Regions from separate parts of the Homo sapiens genome. Here region 2 is linked to region 1. Evidence: fine-mapped expression QTL. A gene starts in region 1. The other region holds a variant in brackets. All regions are shown on one strand. Distances are between the middles of the regions.

Region 1 (10,545 bases):
AAAGAAAGTTGAGTAATTACGCCAGTAATTCAGGTCCAAGTTTCTAATTACATGGACTAAACTGACTATATAAATACAATTCTCCCTTTCACCTGTTGCTAGTCATTATTTTCTTGGTGTTTTGTTACATTAAAAAGATTTTATAAAACTTGCCTCCCCATCCCCTTTCATAAAATATAGATTAAAATGCTTACACAAAGAAAATTAATTTTGAAAATAACATTTGAGAGAGTTAGAAAAACATTTATGTTTTAACCTTAATAAAACAATGAAACAAAAGTTCAGGGAAAAACTGAGTATATGGGAAGAAACACAGTGGAAAAGTTTAATCTATTTTTTTAGGTGCTTGTTTTCTCAAAACTCTGTAAAACTACTTTCTAAACATTCACCACGGTGTAAAAATCAGCTACGTATAAACAATTCAAAGTATTTTCTGAATAGTTCTAGCTATGTAACAAATGTGAAAAAGCTGAACACAATTATTCTACTAGGATTTTTAAAAATGTAGTTTTTAGACTGACTTATCCATAAAATGGCTTCAAGTCTATATTTAATTTGAAAAGGGGGATAAAATCAGTATTCTGTTGAATATAACAACCATAATAGAAAAGTTAAATTCTTTTTTTTTGAGACAGAGTCTCACTCTGTTGCCAGGCTGGAGTGCAATGGCACGATCTTGGCTCACTCAACCTCCGACTCCCAGGTTCAAGCAATTCTCCTGCCTCAGCCTCCCTAGTAGCTGGATTACAGATGCATGCCACCACGCCTGGCTAATTTTTGTATTTTTGGTAGAGACAGCGTTTCACCATGTTGGCCAGGATGGCCTCGATCTCCTGACCTCATGATCCACCCACCTCGGCCTCCCAAAGTGCTGGGATTACAAGCGTGAGCCACCGCGCCCGGCCCAAAATGTTAAATTCTTAACCAGTATCATTTTAAATATTGTACACAATTAAAAATATTAAAACACTTATCTAGGCTTTCATTGCCATGTAAGCTCTTTTGAAATATTAATTTTGGTTTAAATGCTTACTTTAAATGAGTTAAAAGTACTTTAGCTGTAAAGTCTCCTTAACTGTTTATAATGTATTTAATGCAAATCATCCCTTCTTATATACTAACTTCCATTCTAAAATGCTTCATTTGACAAGTGAATATAGTTACATTTTTCAGTTTATAAGCAATTATACTGTTACTTTGGTTTTAATCTACAAAAACCTTTATTTTTGTTTTCATTTTTGTTTGTAAAATTATAGTTCCTTAAACAAAATATACTTATTTGTACACATTTTAACATGTAAAAAGCATGTTCTCAAAATACAAACTTGAAAAAGTTACTGGCTTTCAACAATAATATCCCACAGCATAGGCCCATTTGTTCCATTTTTTGCTGGAATTCGTGAAACCAACCCAAACTCCAATTTCTAAGGTATGAAAAAACACAGAGATTCCAAATCCAGACCTAAAAAACGAAGAGACTCTGTTAGACATTCTCTGCTGTTGTAGTCTAAATGTAGGACATCTTGAAACTGATTAGATTCTGGACAAAACAGATGATCTTTCAGTCTTTTCCAAGCCTTACTAATGAAGCTTAGTTGAATTCATTGTAGCTAAAAGAATCTTGGATTGTGTCACAGAAAATAAACACTAAATAAGCTTTCTGTGACACTTCTCAGGTCCTTTCTCTCTTCCTTCCTCTTCCTCTTTCCCCCCTTTCTCTCTCTTCTTCCCTCCTTCCCTCCCTCTTTTTAAAGATATAAAACAATTTAAAGGACTGTCTGTGTACACATGGAAGAATTAGATACAGTCATCAATGTAAACTTGTTTCATGTCTCTTCTTCACTTTACCCTCCTACAGCTAAGCCATGGGCCATCCTGGCTGATACCAGATCAATGATATAGGAAACTGAAGTGGTGACGTTTATAATTTTAGTACAGAAAAAAAAATCAACCTGCTGTTGAGGAGGTAACTGTGCTTATTATCTAAATGGTCTATTTGATGGAATTTATTAGGTGATTGGCCAGTTCCTAATTTTCATATAAATTAACTGGTGAAGATAGAAATTATGTGATTTAAGAATTGAACTTGCTTTTTATAATCCATACAAAAGATAAGTGAATCATTTAAATCACTTACGGAATTTAAAGGAAAATTATTTTTTATTTGTCTGTGCAGAGAAATTCTAAGACACATAATGCAACCTGTTCTTTTCTCATTAAATGTTACATGGAGTATGACTGCTTTCTTTCATTTCTTCCTAACTTCCTTCCTTTAACTTAAAATTTGCCTTCATCTTTTGCCAAATTACATTTGTTTATTTTCATTTCTTTTTTACAAATCGATTTCTCATTTCTTCTTAGATGAAGACTTCACAATTTTGGTCTTTACAACTCAGATATTCCCCATGTGACATTAACTGCTTTGCTTAAAAATAAGGGATCAAACTTCCTAAAATACGTTTCAACATGCTACGCTGAAGTCCTAAAGAGTAGACATGACTTTTCTAATATCCACGAAATCCTTTTAAAACTGTGGACTGGTTAGATACAAAGATTTGATATTTAAAGTTATAATTTCATTCTTAGGTCTGCTCCTTTAATTTTGCCATTATCTTATACTCACTCAAGTAGCTAACAAAATCATGGCATGACAACACTGATGACAGCTCCCAAATTTCACTTTAGAAATTAAATAGTATTTTCTTGCCAAGATTTTGACTACAGAGTTTCTTATTTGCAAAGTTTAACAAAATTATGGTTTTCTAGGCCAAGGTGTGCAGATTACTTGAGGTCAGGAGTTTGAGACCAGCCTGGTCAACATGGCAAAATCCTGTCTCTACTGAAAATACAAAAATTAGCTGGGTGTGGTTGCATACACCTGTAATCCCAGCTACTTGAGAGGCTGAGGCATGAGAATTGCTTGAACCCAAGAGATGAAGGTTGCGTGAGCTGAGATCATGCTGCTGCACCCAAGCGACAGAGTGAGACTCTGTCTCAAAAAAAAAAAAAAAAAAAAAAAAGAAAAAATTACGGTTTTCTAATTTCAGGAAATGTTGTGAGATCTTATATAATAAACTCAATTTCTCAGTAGCATGATAATTTGACTTTTTAAAACTTAGATTTAAAATATTTAATTTTTCTTATATTTTGAAGTTTTATGTTTTATATTTCCCAGATAAAACTTACGAAAATGAAATATTTAAAATGGTACCGGCCGGGTGCAGTGGCTCACGCCTGTAATCCCAGCACTTTGGGAGGCCAAGGTGGGCGGATCATCTGAGGTCAGGAGTTCGGGAGCAGCCTGGCCAACATGGAAAAACCCCCATCTCTACTAAAATAAATAGATAAATAAATAAATAACATAAAATGGTACTAAATGATGACAATATTAAATAGAAATTGTACTATTTACCATTTAATATAAATTTATTCAAAAAAGTTTTAGGGGAAAAATACAAAACACTTGTGCCAAATCATAAGCGTAAGTTATCTGTTTTAGAGAACACTGTATCATTAATTTTAAACCCTGTGGTTACAGTTTATTTAATGTAATTTGTATTTCATTTCCCTCACACATTTTTAAATCCACATATGCAAATTAAACTATACAATGTGAGAAAAGGTTATATTTGTCCATATCAATTATTGCAGCAATGACTGTTTAGAAATAATTAGGGATTGGATTACATGTTTAAATTGAAAATAAAAGCTTTACTGTCCCCTCTGAATACTCAGTTTGGTGTCTCACAGTGTGATATAAGATGCAATTTGAGACCACTGAACTCTGTGATCATGAATGTGCAAAAACTTGACCATTCAAATTCCAAGTCACAAACTATGCCTTGCCAAGTTATTTAATAAAAGAATATAGACAGGTTTTATAAACTTCACTGAAACAGTTTTTGACTTATACTCTCAAGTGTCATATATAACTCAGTTAAATACTCCTTCCAACTGTCCATTTGTGGTTAAAATAGCTTTAAAACAGTAAAGACTATTTTCATTAACAAATATCTCAGAGTTTAAAGTAACCATCAAAGCATCGGTGTTAGGGAACACAGAGAGAATGGTTTCTTATTTAGAGGTAGTTTCTAAAGTGTTCTAAACTTTCTTCTCTGTAGCATATGAGCAGGCAGGGATAAAACAGATCCCCACTAGAATATATAATAAATATATAAGCCAGTTAAAACTAGTCTTTGTCTCGATGGCACTTAAACTTATTATTTTTTCTCCCCATGGAGTTCCATGAGCTCTTCAATCTAAAGGAATATCTTCCTTCAGCGTTATTTGCACAAAAGCAAAAGTACTTATACAATCTGAAAAAGAAAATATTGTAATTCATAACACTAACAAATGCAGCAATGAGGCCTGTGGGAAAAGCTGACCACATAGATCCGGTAAAAGCCCTAGCCTATTTAATTGTAATCACAATAAAGGGACCAATATTAAATTTGTTTCTAAAAATATTAACCAGTTCAAAGGATATCAAATGTACTTGAAACTCTAAAACATTGTTTAAAAAGGTAACTTCTAGTTCTTCAAATGATTTCTAGATTCTCAAAAAGAAAAATAAATTTATCAGCATTGTCTACCTAATATTTGCAGTTTAGGAGGCAAGATATATTGTTAATGTGAAGATGGTTGCATCTGTATTTTGTTGTTTTCAGCTGCACATAATTGTTCTTTTAAAAGGCTTTTGGGAAGCCAAATTTAGTTTACTGGCTTTGAGCATGCAGAATTTTTTAAAGTTTAGTCAAAGTTCCAATGCTGTTTTGAGTAAAGCAAAATTTTAAACAGTATTTTCATACTTTCAGAATATGTTCATATGTAGTTTTTCTAACATAAAATGCATTGATCTTTATGGCTGTAACCAAGAGAGTCTACATCTGGGTAGTCATGCCTTTTGATGATCATACTTCCATGTATTTCAATGACTTGTCAAAGACACACGTTTGAAACACTCGATCCTGTGCCTCCTTCAAAGGAAGTTTAAATAAATATACCTGTAGTAGGAAAATTCCGTTTTTCTAGCATTAGAACACATTATGGTGAAAATTTTTGTGAGCTTAAAATGTGCCCATCACTTAGGCCTAACACATGAATATACTTAGGCCTAAGAGGAGGAAACATTCTAAGAGAAAGTACTTATACATGGGCAACAAAGTAATATGACAGCTATTATGGAAACAATCCTTCTGAATTTCCTAACTTTCATGCCCACAAATTGACAACCACTTGTGTTTATTTTTCTTTTAAAATAATATTTTAAAATCTATGTCCATGATTAATACTCTCTTTTTTGACACTAAATTGAGTATTAGAGTTATCAACTCAAATTCTATTAGAGTATTAATAATCAACGTTACACTAGGTCATAAAATACATGTGTAATAAACATAATAAGCTTGGGTGTTGTTAATATTGTTGAACATTTACACAACTCTGTCCTGACTATTCTCTATGTAATCAGGTATCATGAAGTTTTTCAACTGACATTTTACTACTAATGAGAAACAAATTAGGAAGATGAGTGATGGGAAGAAAAGATGAACATGATTAATAGGTGCTTGTTTCATAAAGACTCTAGGGAGACTTTTAAATCCTTCACTGCTACTATATTCTCACCGAGTGAGGAGCCACTGCACGTGCCTTTTAAAGCTTTCAAAGGAGGGCTGAGTAGTTACTCAATCTGTTACTGATGCTTACTCCATTTGCATCCTGTTGTGAAATGAGGTACACTTTATGTATTGGTGCCAAGGTAAATGTCAACTGTATCCATCAAAAATTTTTAAAACAGACATCTAAGTTAGAAAAAGAAAATAATGTTTCACTTTGGGTCTAATGTTGCAAATAATCGCTCCTGAAGACTAAAACATCTTTGTTGTTCCGCATCCCTTCCCTCCACCCTTCAAGAACTTGCATTTTTTAACTTTTCAAGTGCTTTTGATTAAAAATACCTAATCTACTTTGCTTCACGGGTTTTTTAAAGAATCATTCTTGTTCTCTAAACCAACTTCGTAGAAATAGAGAGGAAGTTAAACTTTATACAGTATTTGAATCTTTAAAGGTATGAGCATCCTAAACAGTAACTCACTTCTAATAAAGATCTTGCCATTCCTAACTGTACTTTACTAAGGTAGCTGTTTAATAAAAACGTATTTATGCAGATTCTATAGAGCAACTAAAACGGGACCCATAGATGTGGTGAGTAGCACAAAATGTGTATGGCAGTTGGCTTTATTTGCAGCGGCATATAAAATTGTTAATAATCCTGTCAAATCTGTTCATGAATAATTTATTAATCCGATTGCTGGAGTGCAGTGCATACAGGAACTCTATGTATGCGTGCATGTGTACACACCCCCCATGCAGGAAGGACACTACTGCCGTATTCCAGAAATGACAAAAAAAAAAAAGTAAAAATAAGCAAGAATCACATAATTAGATGTCTTACAGTCTCATAAAAGGGCAGTGCTGCGAGGTTAAGCTGGTGAGCTAAAAAACAAACAAAACAAACAAAAAACCACAAAAGCAAAATCCAGTTGCCTGAGATCGGAGCTTCCCGCAGGATTCGCGCAGAGCGAGGAGCGGGGAGGACGCCGTTTGCGGGAGGCGGGGGCCGGGATCCCGACACCGTCCGCAGTCTCCCCGGGGTCTCTCAGGGAACCGAGCTGGTGGCCGTCCGAGGTAAGCGCCGAACCAAGGAGAAAGCGCCGAGCGCGTCCACAAAACGCCCGAGGCCGCCCTTCTCGCCAAGGCTCGGCAGCTCCCGCGGCCTGCGCTGGACAAGCGAGAGCTGGACGGAAACGGTGGGAGGCCGTAGGCGGCGGCTGGGGGCGCGGGACCCGCGCGCGGGCGCGGAGGCGGGCGGGGAGGCCCCGCAGCCCGCGCCGCCGCCAGCCGCCCCGAGCCGCGTGCGCGCGCGGCCGCATCAGCTGAGCGCGCGGCGCGTGTCACGTGGTGTGCGTGTCGAAGGTCACGGCGCGCTCACAATGGAGCTCTCGGAGTCTGTGCAGAAAGGCTTCCAGATGCTGGCGGATCCCCGCTCCTTCGACTCCAACGCCTTCACGCTTCTCCTCCGGGCGGCATTCCAGAGTCTGCTGGACGCCCAGGCGGACGAGGCCGTGTTAGGTAAGCCGCTCGGCTCGGCTCGGAGCTGGATCCGCCGGGGTGGAGGGGCGCTCGGAGAAGAGGAGCCGGCGGAGCGAGAAGGGGAAAGCCCCGGGAAGAGGAAGTCTCCGGGCTTTGCCCTTCGCTCCGGACGGAGTGTTGGGGACGTGGCTCTGCCAGGACTCGGAGCAGACTCTGAGCATTGTTTTGGCCCCACTTGGCACCTGCATAGAGCCAACTCCACGTTCCTGGCCCGGTTTCCCTCCCAGTCTCTTTGTTCTTTTGTAAAGCCGGTGTTCAAGTCTTGTTTGTGGCCTAAACATCTAAGGTGTTTAGCCTTGTCTGAGGCTGCGGCTGTTTTGACAGTTGGACTTCATCTGGGGAGCTCCCTGCAATTCAAGCTTCCAGGGCTAGGCTAGCAAAGGTTTAAGGGTCTGTTTCCGAAGTAATTACTAGGTCAGACAGTGTTGACATTTGCCAACTTAGAGCATACCTCAAGTTGCTATGATCACTCCAGCGCTCTAGTTCAGCATGTTTACACAGGTTCTACGCCTAGAACCTTAAACTATGATGCACAATACTTTGTTCCGCCCCAGTTACCAGGATGCGAGTGTCTTTTAAGCGATCCGGTCAGTGACTGCGGAGGTGCAGTGTCAGTATGGATTGAAGACATATTTTAAGACCGATCGCTTTTAGATGATTTTCTTAAATATAAATATCCCAACAATTCAAATTTTTGTTTTTTTTCTGTAGTTTCATGAACTAAACACTTGTACAAAAAGTATGAAAGTGGAAGTTCTTAAACGAAAATAGTAACCACCACCTGGGTTAATCTCAAAAAAAAAATGACTGTCAAACCCTGAAAGTACTAATATAATTTTGAAATTTGTATCTTATATTCTGAACTCATGCCCTACCTTCTACCCCCTTGATGTATTTGTTCATGGAGCCGGTTACCCTAAACTCATCATTTTTAGGATGGAAGTTTATTCTAAAATTGACACAATGTAAAATATTTATCTTGTTTTTCCTTTGAATTTACTCCAGTGTTAGAATGACCATTGCATTGTTATATTTTCTTTGGGGGCTATAATATTTTTTAATAGTAAAAATATTAAGGCAAAATAAGTTAATTGAAGCTAGTAATAGTAGAGTTCTTGTTGTGTTCTTTTTATTGTTTTTCACTTGATCTTGTTGCTCATCTCATTTACTTATAATTGACTGTCCTTATAGTTGATGTTTTTAATCTTGTTAAAGGGTTTTTAAACCCAAATTAAAATATCCTTTTTGGAACATGACTGTAAAGAATTTATTATCATAGGCATCACTGGAAGTTAATTTATTTTAGATCATCCAGACTTGAAACATATCGACCCAGTGGTTTTAAAACATTGTCATGCAGCAGCTGCAACTTACATACTAGAGGCAGGAAAGCACCGAGCTGACAAGTCAACTCTAAGGTACAGGATTTATTTAAATATCCATTTATTTTCAAATACTACCTTAATGATTTCAATTTCAGTTTTAAAAATGGAGACAGAACTTTGGCTTTTTTTTTCTTTCTTCTAGCACTTATCTAGAAGACTGTAAATTTGACAGAGAGCGAATAGAACTGTTTTGCACGGAATATCAGGTTACTTACTTTAAAATTTTTAATTAACAGTACTATTTTTCTTTTACTTTGTTTGTAAAGATGTTTTTTTTTCTTTCTTTCTTGCTTTCTTTTTTCTCTCCAGAATAATAAGAATTCCCTAGAAATCCTACTGGGAAGGTAGGTACTGTATAAGGTGTCAAGCTGAGGCACTTTTCACTTGCAGGTATGAATGGAGAGTGTTGGTGTGAAACAAGATCTTCGGGATCTTGACCCAAAGAAAAGGAGCCAAAGGGCATGTCAAGCAATTGAAGTTAAGCTCATGTTTTTAAAGATCGTTTATTGAGATGATTTTGAAATGCTCCTTTACCATTCATAATTTAAAAATAAAGTTTAACAATGGTTTAAATTCAGAATGGATTAAAATGGAGTTGGGGGTGGAAAGTAGAGCCATTCTTAGTAAATATAAATAACTGAAAAGTTCTTCTGAGGAGACTATGTACGAAGTTATCATTGCATCTTTCAGTATAGGCAGATCTCTCCCTCATATAACGGATGTTTCTTGGCGCTTGGAATATCAGATAAAGGTAAAGTTTAAGAAACTTCTCTAGCGGGGGATTTAGGGAACTTCTTAAAACCTAGAGTTAAAAGCTGTTGCGTGTTTGTTGTGTTATTTTAGACCAATCAACTTCATAGGATGTACAGACCTGCATATTTGGTGACCTTAAGTGTACAGGTATTTATAGATAAGTCTTATCCAATAATGAAATTTATAATTTCATTGATTTAAATAAACAGCGTTTCTTGTTGCGTGTTTTTTTTCCTGCCCTAGAACACTGATTCCCCATCCTATCCAGAGATTAGTTTTAGTTGCAGCATGGAACAATTACAGGTACAGTATTAGGATCTATAAATATTCCTGTCTTTTTATAAATGTTTACTTGAGAGTTATACTCTTGGGAAGTTCAAAAGAAAATTAATCTAACCATTTGTCAGCAGATAATGAAGATTGGTTAAGGATTTAATGGGAAAGGGGCATCAAAAGTAGTATTTTAAGATAGGCTTCACTTGAAATTAAGATGTTATTAATAGAGAATTGGTCTGTATTTGCTGTTCTTGCTGATTGAAATAAACTTCTGTAGTGTTTAGTGTAAATTTCTTCTATTCATGATGAGTTTGGTCCAATAAGATAAACAAAATTAAGAGCATGGCTTTGAAAATGTCTTTGCTTTCAGAAATTGAATTAAACTGTCAAAATTGGATTTTGAAACTTTTTAAATGACTTTATAAAGGGGGAAGTATACATAACATTCTAAAACTGTTTATATTGCCCATTTAAGACTGGGAAAATTCAAAACTACATTTATTAGTGGATATGACAACGAATTTATTTCATAGTTTTTAAAAAATGAAGCTCATTACTGGAAATTTAAGTGAAATTGAATTTTTCAAAGGCATCTTCTGCAGAGTCGTTTTAATGTAACTATGAATCAAACTTTCAACTTTCAGAAAATGTGTATACAGCATAACCTTTGTTAGATAACTTGAGAAAATTCAGATGTATCTGGGCGGTTAAGGATCCGGTTAGAAATCATGTTTCAGTGTGAGGGCAAATAACCGATTTGAACATGAGGTATTTCCGAGGAAACGCTTTTTTTGCCCGATAGTAGTTTGTCAAAAGTTAAAATCTTGTTGAATTTTAAACTTGTTTGGAAGGTGTGTCCTGATTTTTTTTCTTGCATCTTTCTTGAGCTTGGATACTTCTTTCCATGTTTTATCCTAAAAACGTGGTATTGTATACACGTCTTTTAGGACTTGGTGGGGAAACTTAAAGATGCTTCGAA
Region 2 (10,545 bases), 270 kb after region 1:
TCTTCTGGAAAACTTCTAGAATAAAAAAGATAATTGTTGAAATTAAAAAAAAAAAAGATTAGAACAGTTGAAGAGACACTTAGGACTGGATGATATATTTTGAAGAATTCACCCAGAATTGGGCAGAGATGTTTGGAGATGGAAAATGGAAAAGAAAAGTTAAAGATGGGGAAGCCAGGATGAGCACGTTAAAGATGTACTTGCTGGAGAAACAGAAGGGGAGAGGTGAGGCTGAAAGAGAAAAGGACTGCGGAACTTCCAGACCCTGGAGAAGAAGTACTGCAGGAAAAGCTTGCTGGGGAGTGTGCCGGGCAGCTCCCCATGAAACTAGGAGGAAATGGCTGAGGACATTGGGAACAGAGGGCTACAAATGACGCCATCGGCAAGCTTCGGGGCACTCATTGGGCCACAGGAACTCCCAAGATGACAAATACCTTCCCCTGTTTCTAAGAGAGAAGCAAGACGTGTCCGCAGTTTACAATGGCAGCAGAGGGTCTACTGGGAGCTTGTGTTTAGTCTCATAATCTGATACTTACACAGGACTGAGAATATCCAAGTACTTTCCAAATTTTAATTGATCACTCCTCCGGAAAAATGAACAAAAGGGCCCAAGAGCAGATTCAGAACTGAGTGCTCAGAATGTTCTGTTGTTCCAGAACACAGGAGCTGCCCTGTCACTCACCGGGGGCACATGAGCATCACCTGGGGGCCTGGTAGAAAGGCGGCCTCCACAGACTCCCCGACAGCCCCTCCAGACCCAGCCAGTCAGAGCCCTGATGAAAGTCTAAGAAGCACTGACACAATGTGGAACCTTTTCTCTTTTGGTGCTATAACCCTCTCCACTCTTTTTTGTATTTAGCTTTTATGGTCCCTATTTTCTCAGTTTTGCTCTACCGAAGTCTCATCCTTTGAATAGTAACACCAACGTCCCTAACCTTCGGGAAAGGATAAGCAGATGTACTATGAGGAGATTTCAAAGAAGTCACATGTTTGCCCTAAAATCCTTGAAATTTGAGGTGCTGATTAGCTTATTTAACAGGGAGTTCAGATTTTGGGGCAAAACTTCTGGATTCAACTAAAGATATTAATTGTTTCCCTAAATAAAAGGATAAGAAAGGAATTTAAGTCGTTTTTTATCAATTTTACCCATTTATCGATTCAGTCACTTTGAAATAAGAAAGTAAATTAAAATGCTGCATTTCAAAAGCTATTAAAATACTCAATAATATTTTCATAAGGTATTTCTTGATCACCTATATTGCAGCTTCCCTCGGGTTACATTCTAAGTCCTATACAACTTCAGGGAAGTATGTTACCAACAGTGCCTCTCAATTTTTTTTTTTTTTTTTGAGACAGAATCTCACCCAGGCTGGAGTGCAGTGATGCCATCTTGGCTCCCTGCAACTTCTGCCTCCTGAGTTCAAGGGATTCTCATGCCTTAGCCTCCTGAGCAGCTGGGACTACAGGCATACACCCCCAGCTAATTTTTTGTAGTTTTAGTAGAGACCGGATTTCACTGTGTTGGCTAGGCTGGTCTTGAACTCCTGGCCTCAAGTGATCCGTCCACCTCGGCCTCCCAAAGCACTGGGGTTACAGGCATGAGCCACTGTGTCCAGTCAATACTTTTCAATTTTAATTCAAGTTGAAGCTACATGATACCAAAGCTCCCAATGAATTCACGTCAGTGCGGGGAAAAAAAAAATTCAGTCGATTTAAGATAAAAAGATATTCAAGTAGGCAAATAGGTTTTTTACCATTTTTTCCTTTTTGAATGTTCTAACATTGTTTAGTTAATCAACTGATAATCATCATTTATAGGATCCGAGTTTCTTACAGCCTAACAGAAATGTGAAAAGGATATTTATAGCGAAACATTATTTTCCCAACTACAAGAGAAAATCAAATGAAGTAAACAAAATTTATGAAAGTTTGCTGTGCTTAATATGAATTCTCCATTGGTCTGAGAGATGATGCTCTTCTTTCTTTGCACAGAGTGAAAGCTAGGGTAGAATTTGGGCAGGAAATAAAGAATAGAGCAAGATACTGGAACTTGGGGGAAAAATCTAACTCCTCACGGCTGAAGTCTTCGTAATTCTGCATCAGTGCCACAGTCTACCAGAAACCAGGCCCCCTAGTGGATTAAAAGAGTTAAGGACTGAATGCCACATGAGAATGATTTCAACACTGAGGTGTAGGAAATTAAATACAAGAACGATATTTAATTAAAAATCTTATTCAGTCACTCATTTAGCACTTCTTTTTCTTTTTTTCGAAACGGAGTCTCGTTCTGTTACCCAGGCTGGAGTGCAGTGGCACAACCTCGGCTCACTGCAACCTCCACCTCCTGGGTTCAAGCGATTCTCATGCCTCAGCCTCCCGAGTAGCTGGGACTACAGGCACGTGCCATCATGCCTGGCTAATTTTTGTATTTTTAGTAGAGATGAGGTTTCACCATGTTGGTCAGGCTGGTCTTGAACCCCTGACCTCAGGTGATCCACCCACCTCGGCCTCCCAAAGTGCTGGGATTACAGACGTGAGCCACTGCGCCTGGCCCATTTAGCACTTCTTATATACTAGACACTGCTCTGAGCATGTTATAATATGAATTCACCTAATTAGCACAACACCCAAATGAAGAGGGTACTATTATCCAAATATTATAGACCAAGAGGTGTCAAAAGTATAAGTAAATTGCCCAAGGTCATGCCATTGGCCAGGGGCATGGCTGGGACCAGAAGGTGGCTGGCTGGCTCCAAGTCCTTGCTCTTGAACCACCTGCCATCCCAGATTGCTGGGAAGGTCAGTGTGTCAGAAAATTAAACCTAGGAAGAATTTATTCAAATATTCAAATAACTAGCCATGTTCTACTTCTCCAGAGGCTGGCCTTGGGCAATTTTAACCCTCCAGAATATAATTCCAACTGTGGCTGCATTTCCTTAAAACAAAAAACAACAAAGGAAAAGAAAAAAAAAAGGGCTGTTGGGTAACCAAAGTTGTCAGAAAGTCCATGCAATTCACTCCACGGGAGAAACCCTCTATGAGAGCCTCTCATCAACTGATATGCACCTGAACGATCTGCATTACTTGTCTAGATTCGGAAGGTTCAGAAGCCCAGAGAGTTCCAAGGCAAAAGCAACAACAAGCAAGAAGAAACAGAAGAAATGATGATCACTACTGAAGCTAGAGAGAGAAAGTTTCTTAGATACAAACCCTAAAAGTACTCTAGGCCCACAGAAAGTAGGAATGAAGGCCTGACATATACCTCAAATACCTCTGAGCATCTCAAACCACAGGGATAGAAACACAAAGCTTGACAGGCCTCCCTGGGTTTACCAATGACAGGCCTGTGTCCGGTCACACAGAATCACATGAGGACATGCCAGGCTGAGCCCACCACCCAGTAATATTCATCAAAATCTCGTCTGGAAGTGGCATACAAGAAGAACAGCCTGAAGAACATTCAAACAGAAGCCAGAATGGGAGAGGGCTAGGCAGCCGGTGTGCATTATAGCCTTTCTCTGTAGAACAGCATTTACTAAATGTAAACTACACACTGGTGTGGCCTTTGCTAATTGCTGCGGGTGTGATGTTTGACTCGGCGGACTGCATCTTCCTTCATGAACACCTGCCAACCTGAGCAGGGTCCCAGACCTGCCCTCAGTGAGCCTAGCAGGGGTCACCCCGAATAGATCAGTATCAAATAAGCTGTGTGAATGTTGAGACCTTTTATGAGGTTTCTGTGGAATTCTCTGATCATGTAATTAACACTGTTACTCTTCACTGCTGCTGTATTTTTAAAAACCTCTTCTATGTGAGATTTTGCTGAGATGTATATGAGTGGCATGTCCACCTTTAATGGTCAACGTTTGTGTCACCTATACATTTCCTTGTTCTTAATTTGCTTTCGTTTAAATGTAATTTAAAAATGGACAAATTAGCAAAACGGTGCTGCAACTGTGGCTGTATTTATACATGGCCTATACTGATAATTAGCAGCCTATACGGACAATTTTTTTTTAAGTTCTCTAACATTCTTGTATGTTTCTCAGCTTGTGGCAAGGATGTTGTTTTATCAGGTCAGATGTCCCTGTGTCCGCTCTGTGGGGAACTCCTTAGAGTCAACCCTGTTGCATCTTAGTACCAAGACCACTTACATTTCTCCTTGGCAACAGACTCAAAGTATCAAGCATGCTGGTCATCTTGGCATGAATATCTACGCTCATTCCAGGCTCCATTTTGTGCCTTTATCTTTCTGCCTCTTCCTTTTCTTTTTTTCATTTATTCTAGCTTGTATTTCCAACTTCTTTGAAGGCCACCTTAAATCCTTTCTGGAATAAGGTCAAGAGTGAATACATGAATAAATGAATGAATGAATGAAATGCAGGTGCAGAAGCTGAGTTCAGAGATCATCCAAGAGGCAGTTCCTAACAGGTTAGGATCTATGTCTCCTGACTTCTACTTAGTGCCCTTTAAATAATTTATATTAATAATGTGATTCCCAATCATTAAGACCCTACAAATTATATTTAAAATATTCTGTTTATAAAAAGAAAAAGTATAGATGTTGGATAAAGGAGACTTTTCTGAATAAAGAACTCACCAATAAGATAACAATTTTGTAGCAGTGGAACAGAAGGAAGTCTTTATACTGTTAAAGCCCCTGGGAGGTGTCAATAGACTTATTTTGATCCCACACTTATTTTATGTAACACTGGGGATATGTCAAATCCCTATGTTAGGTTACAATAACTAACCCAGAGAAAACATTTCAAATCGTGATTTTTGTAAAGTCAAAGGATGCT[A/T]AACTCAAAGTTGTCATCAAGAAGTTGGTACTTCAATTCTGTGTCACATTTTATTAGCATGGTATCATGGCCATTTTTTAGAACAATATGCTCTCATCAGTCATGAGATATCACTTCGCTTTGAATGTTCTGAGACAACTGAAAGAAAGTATAAAGAGAATGCATAAGTATGATATCAATTTCCAGAGGGGAAAAAATGAAAAAGTAGACAGTTTAAAAGGTGAAGAGTTCAAAGCTGCAACCTGTAATTCAATTCATTCAGATAACAGAGCCTCATGTCTTCCCCCTCACAGGTAGCATCCTGGCACTTTAAAATTTCCTGTAGAATAAGAGGCAGTAGCATAAGCAGTGTAGAACAAATTTCAAAAGGAATAGATATTATAAAAGATTTATTAGATATTAAATGAATTTAGAGGCTAATGATTTTAGAAAACAAACTAGAGGCAGTACCAAGTTTCAAGAAACAGAATATAGCTCAAAGATTTTTATAGACTTCACTGCAAGCAAAATGCAATTGATCATATTTGCAAAGATTGGAAGAATAAGCAACTGCCAAGAAAGAATCCATGATATTAGAGCATCATGCATGAACATAAAGTAATGCTTTTAAAGGGATGTTTAAACAGACATCTAGGAGCTCACAAGTCCAGGCCAGTGCTGCCTTCGAAGCAGATACTTAGTAAGTGTGATTGTTTATACTCGAGAATCCTTTTATTAATATATTCAGGACCTGCGGCACTTTATTTTGAATACCCATTGTGACAGCCAATTTTTACCTTTGGGGGATTGGGAGCTATTTAAGTTAAAAACACCGTGTGACTCTGCTATGAATGGAAAGTTTGTGTCCCCCAAAATGCTTACGTTGAAACCCTAATCCCCAAGTGATGGTATTAGGAGGTGGGACCTTTGAGAGCTAATTAGGTCATGAGCTTAGAGCCCTCATTATGTGATCAGTGCCCTTATTAGAAGTGACAGAAGAGTGCTTTTGATCCTATCCCACCCACCATGACCCTGCCAACACACGTGAGGCTACAGTGAGAAGCTGGCTGTCTGCAAACCAGGAAGAACCTGACCATACTGGCACCTTGATCTCAGACTTCAACCTCTAGAACTGTAAGAAATAGATTTCTGTCATTTAAGCTACCCAGTCTACGGTTTTTTATGACAGCTCAAGCTGACTAAGGTCCTAAAAGCAACAATGTGTGTATGTGTTTTAAACACCAGTTGTGAAGATGATTCCTGGGATGTTGCAACAGCAGACATGTTCATACCATATGACTACAATTTCTCCAAGTGACTTAGTTGTTACGTTATTTTTATACCATGGATGTTATCTTGATAATAGCGATGCTATGGCCACCACCACACATTGAGTATCTAGTGTGTGACAGACACTGTGCTAAGCACTTGACATGCAATTTCCTATTTAATCTTTAGAATCCATATTAGGTGTTATTATTATCCCGACTGTATAAACAAAGAAACTGTGGCTTCAAAATCCAGGCAGGGTGTGGAGGCTCACACCTGTAACCTTAGCACTTTGGGAGGCCAAGATGGGAGAACTGCTTGAGCCCAAGAGTTCAAGACCAGCCTGGGCAACATAGCAAAACTCCACCTCTATAAAAACACAACTTAAAAAAATTGGCCAGGCATGGTGGTGCATACCTGTGGTCCCAGCTACTTGGGAGGCTGGGGTGGGAGGACTGCTTGAGCCCAGGAGGTTGAGCATGCAGTGAGCTGTGATCACGCCACTGCACTTCAACCTGGCAACAGAGCAAGACCCTGTCTCTAAAAAACAACCAAGACCAGAAGTCACATGCTTAGTAAGCGACCTGGCTGGGATTTGAGCCCAGGATTGTCCAACGCTGGACTTCATGCTCTTATACTCCATGGTGAAGGAGGCCTCTCACAGCGCGGGCTGGGCCTTGGGAACATGTGCTCTACCAGAGAAGCTTGTGCTGGAATTTACTCCAGGAGAGACAGATTGCTGCTCCCAAGGATGGTCTACTTTACCTCCAGTGATTACAATGGAATTATGCTCGGGGATGAAAAGGGGGCAAGAAGCAGACCAACACCCACCTTCTAAAATCAGAGAGCTTGCTCCGTAGCAGATTGTGAATGGCGTGGGCCCTGCTGGGGCCAGGACAGAAGAACCAGTGACAGCAAAATAGGATTCGGAGGTGTAAATAGATACATACTCAGAGGTCAACACCTAATCTCTGGCACAGGCAAAAACTTCTGCAAAGTTGCCAAATCTTAAGCTGAATGATTTTAAAATCAGAGTAGTGATAACTGAAACTATTACACAAGAGTATTTAGGTTAAAAGTGTTATACAAATAATGAATGACCTTTATAGCACAAGCATGCCTAAAGGTTAACTGCCAGGAATCTGGCCACTGTAATTTTAGAACACAGGGTTAGAGGAGATGTTTATGTGAAATGTGTTCTTCTTGTTCTCTAACTATATATTTAAATCTCTGGCCTTGGTGAGAAATCGCTACGCATGTTAATCTTCTTGGAGTTTCAAATAAAGATCAAGAAAAATTACCTGGTGGTATTTCTTCAGGATGTTGTGCATTTCGGCCACGTCTTCACTGGTAATAGTCTTGATGATGTATCTTTTGTCGTAGGAAGTGTGAAAACGAGCTCCACTGCGGGCCTGGGAGTCGTTGGGGAGGGGTGCGCTCCTGGTCAGGGAATTCTTCCCGGGTGGGGTAAGAGGGGAAGGAAGGCGGGGGAAGATAACTAGTTAAAGGTGTGGCTTTCCGATTCCCAGATAATTTGTCATCATTGCAAGTTTTCAAAAACATTTGTGTGTGGGATAAATTGATAAGTAGGATGACAACATTTTTACATGCATCATAACTCACATTGCAAGCCTTTCAGATGAAATGAAAACAGCTTGAATTGTACTATGATTCTAATATCTTTAAAGCAGGCTAATGTCTAGAATTATAATCAAAGTAACTTTAATCACTTAGTTCTTTTCAGAGTTGGACAAGCTCTCAAAGTTTTCTTCTGAATAAAATTAGGTTCCAGTCATAAAAGAAAATTTTACAGTCACTGAGCATTTCCTTATATGACAGGTATCGTGCCAAGCATTTTGCACAGATTATTTCCCCCAATTCTGATAACATTCCCATGCAATGGTTACGATTGCTATCATCACTATTTTACAGATGAGGAGATGGGAATAAGAGAGGCTTAGTATCTGGGCAAAGGGCATATAGCTAATAAGGGAAGAGCTAGAATTCTGACTCCAGTGTGGCTGGCTCAGAATCCAAACTCTCAACTAGTAAACTACTCAACTAGTAAAGTACTTAACTTGCAGACTATGCTACCTGTGTGCCCCAGGAGGAGGAGGCAGGAGCCTGGGAGAGTGTCTTCTAAAACAGCTCCTCCTTAGGCGATTTGAATTTGGTCCATCCTCCACTCCCTACCACCATTTTTGAGAACTACTGATCTCCTGGAGGGTGGACAAGGACGGGCTCTGAGTAGGGGCTCTGCTGACATCATTCACTCCAAGATCTGGTTCATGCTAGTGACACTGGCTAGGTAGGTCTACCCTTCTCCTCCCATGTGACTCTTCCGTTCAGATCTCCTCTTTCTTACATCCTCCAAGAAGCCTCCTCCTTGCCCCAACCTCTTGACAATGGCCGTCCAGCCATGGGGTCTAGCAAACCCCTGGCCCCCAGAAAGTCTCGTCTCCATCCTTGCCGACTGCTCCTGAGCAGTGACTTTCACTCCTTGCCTGGCCCTGCGGGATGGCCTGTGTGGGATTCAAAGGCAAACATGCTTTCTCTCTTTAACTTGCTCTCTGAAGTGGGCATTCAAAGGCCTCAGTGGCCAAATGCTGTCAAGTTAAGGGAACACAGATACCTTCAGAGGGGCAGGTGATAGATAGCTCTGCCCATGAATTTGCAAAAGAAAGAGTGCCTTTCTGTCTAGTATATTCCAGTCTCTTTATCCTTTCCTTCCTTTCTAGATGAAATCAACAGGACTGAACCACCTGAGGTAGAATCCATTGCAGCAGTGCAGGGGTTTACGCAGGCCCTACCTATGCCTGAAGAGAAAAGTGGCCCATGAGCAAATCTTCATCTTCCAGGATTCTCACCTCACCACCCTGGCACCCCCTGTGGTGGATCACACGTTCTGCAATAGCACACCTTGATCTGAAGGCAAGCAGGCGCACCTGCCAGATGCAGAGTCCAGGCCACCAAGTAACTGAATTTGCTTTCCTTAGCTTATTAGAAAACTTGAGAGAAGGAAAAAAAAAAATCTACATAATCCCCAATGACTTTAAATAGCAAGACTTGGCAGTGTTCAGTTATTCTTAAGACAACTAAAATTTATTAGATAGACTGAGAATGATAAAAATGACTTTCAGGATGAAAATGCCTACATTAACAAGAGTTTAATTCTTAATTACATTTTTCTTTCCTAAAACATGAACAAGATCTCCTTTATACTACTTCCCACTTAGAACAAAAAGGAAGAAAATCAAAGTGAATTTCCCCTTGTGGGGTTTTAAATGCTAGCCCCCAAAAAGCAATTATTGCTCTTTGTTAGTGGTCTTACTTTTTTCTTGCAATCACTAATTTGCAAAAGGGTATTTCTTTCAAATAAAACAAGAACTCTAGGAACTGTAAGATTGCAGATTATCTTTGGGCATAAAATCAAAGTGGGAACAATCAAGTTTATGAAAGCCAGGTGGAGCAGACCAAGTGGAACAGACCTTAAACTCTGTCAAACTGACAATACGTGTAAAACAACTTTTGGGGGATGGGGAATAGTAAAGGAGAACTGTATTCAGCACAGGATAGAATTCCAGCAGCCTCAGTTTCATAGATCGTTTTCTTATGCACATTAGATAGGACAGTATAACGTCCTCTCATGGGCCAATAGGGTGAATCAAAAGCTGCATAGTCAGTGCATCTCAAACTTAACAAGCAACTGAATCACCCAGGGATCATGTGAAAATGCAGATTCTGATCCAGCAGGTCAGGGGTGGGGCATTTTCAGAAGTAGATGCTGCTGCTGGAGTGGGTCTGCAGACCACACATGAGAACCAAGGTCTACAGAATGGTGTTTACCCTGTGTTTTACTGGCATGCAGCACGTAAAGTCTAGCGTATTAAGTACATTATAATTACAGACTTACCGGCACTCATGCCTTTCCCATTATATTCTCTACACCTCTAGTTCGATTAAAATGGGAAACTTTATAGTTCAGAATAATAATTCATGGCATTTACTTTACTAATTAAAGAAGGGTTTAATAATACTATGTACCAGTACCAGGACAATGTACAGGGTTTTTTATTTTTATTTTTTGAGACAGGTTCTCACTGTGTTGCCCAGGCTGGAGTACAGTGGTGCGATCTTGGCTCACTGCAGCCTTGATCTCCTGGACTCAAGTGATTCTCGTGCCTCTGCCTCCTGAGTAGCTGGGATTATAGGCATGTGCCACCATGCCCAGCTAATTTTTTTATTTTTAATAGAGACAGGGTTTTGCCATTCTGGCCAGGGTGATCTCGAACTCCTGGCCTCAAGTGATCTATCTGCCTGCCTTGGCCTCCCAAAGTGCTGGGATTACAGGCATGAGCCACCATGCCCAGCGCAACATATGGGTTTATAAAGGGCTGGAAACGTAAAAGCAAATAATGTAGGAACTCCTTAGCTCAGATACTACCTCTTCCCCAGTTTGTGCCTTTTCTTTCAATTTCAAAGGCATTACTATAAT

What was found. PIP is the estimated chance that this variant, and not a neighbour inherited with it, causes the effect.
Region 2: its variant is fine-mapped to the expression of COMMD3 in whole blood (TOPMed, PIP 0.93).

Annotation. Positions count from the first base shown.
Region 1 is chr10:22,309,426-22,319,970 of GRCh38, forward strand. COMMD3 (COMM domain containing 3) reads left to right here and starts at 6,963. Exons shown (of 8, transcript NM_012071.4): 1 at 6,963-7,131; 2 at 8,459-8,570; 3 at 8,680-8,743; 4 at 8,847-8,881; 5 at 9,228-9,288; 6 at 9,381-9,437; 7 at 9,534-9,593; 8 at 10,514-10,545. The coding sequence starts at 6,993. COMMD3-BMI1 (COMMD3-BMI1 readthrough) reads left to right here and starts at 6,963. Exons shown (of 14, transcript NM_001204062.2): 1 at 6,963-7,131; 2 at 8,459-8,570; 3 at 8,680-8,743; 4 at 8,847-8,881; 5 at 9,534-9,593. The coding sequence starts at 6,993. RefSeq lists a silencer at 6,821-6,940 and an enhancer at 7,211-7,510.
Region 2 is chr10:22,584,278-22,594,822 of GRCh38, forward strand. It overlaps PIP4K2A (phosphatidylinositol-5-phosphate 4-kinase type 2 alpha), which reads right to left. Exons shown (of 10, transcript NM_005028.5): 4 at 7,352-7,504. Among named protein-coding and RNA genes, the nearest start is that of PIP4K2A, 130 kb to the right of the region's middle. The variant A/T (reference allele first, on the strand shown) is at 4,803.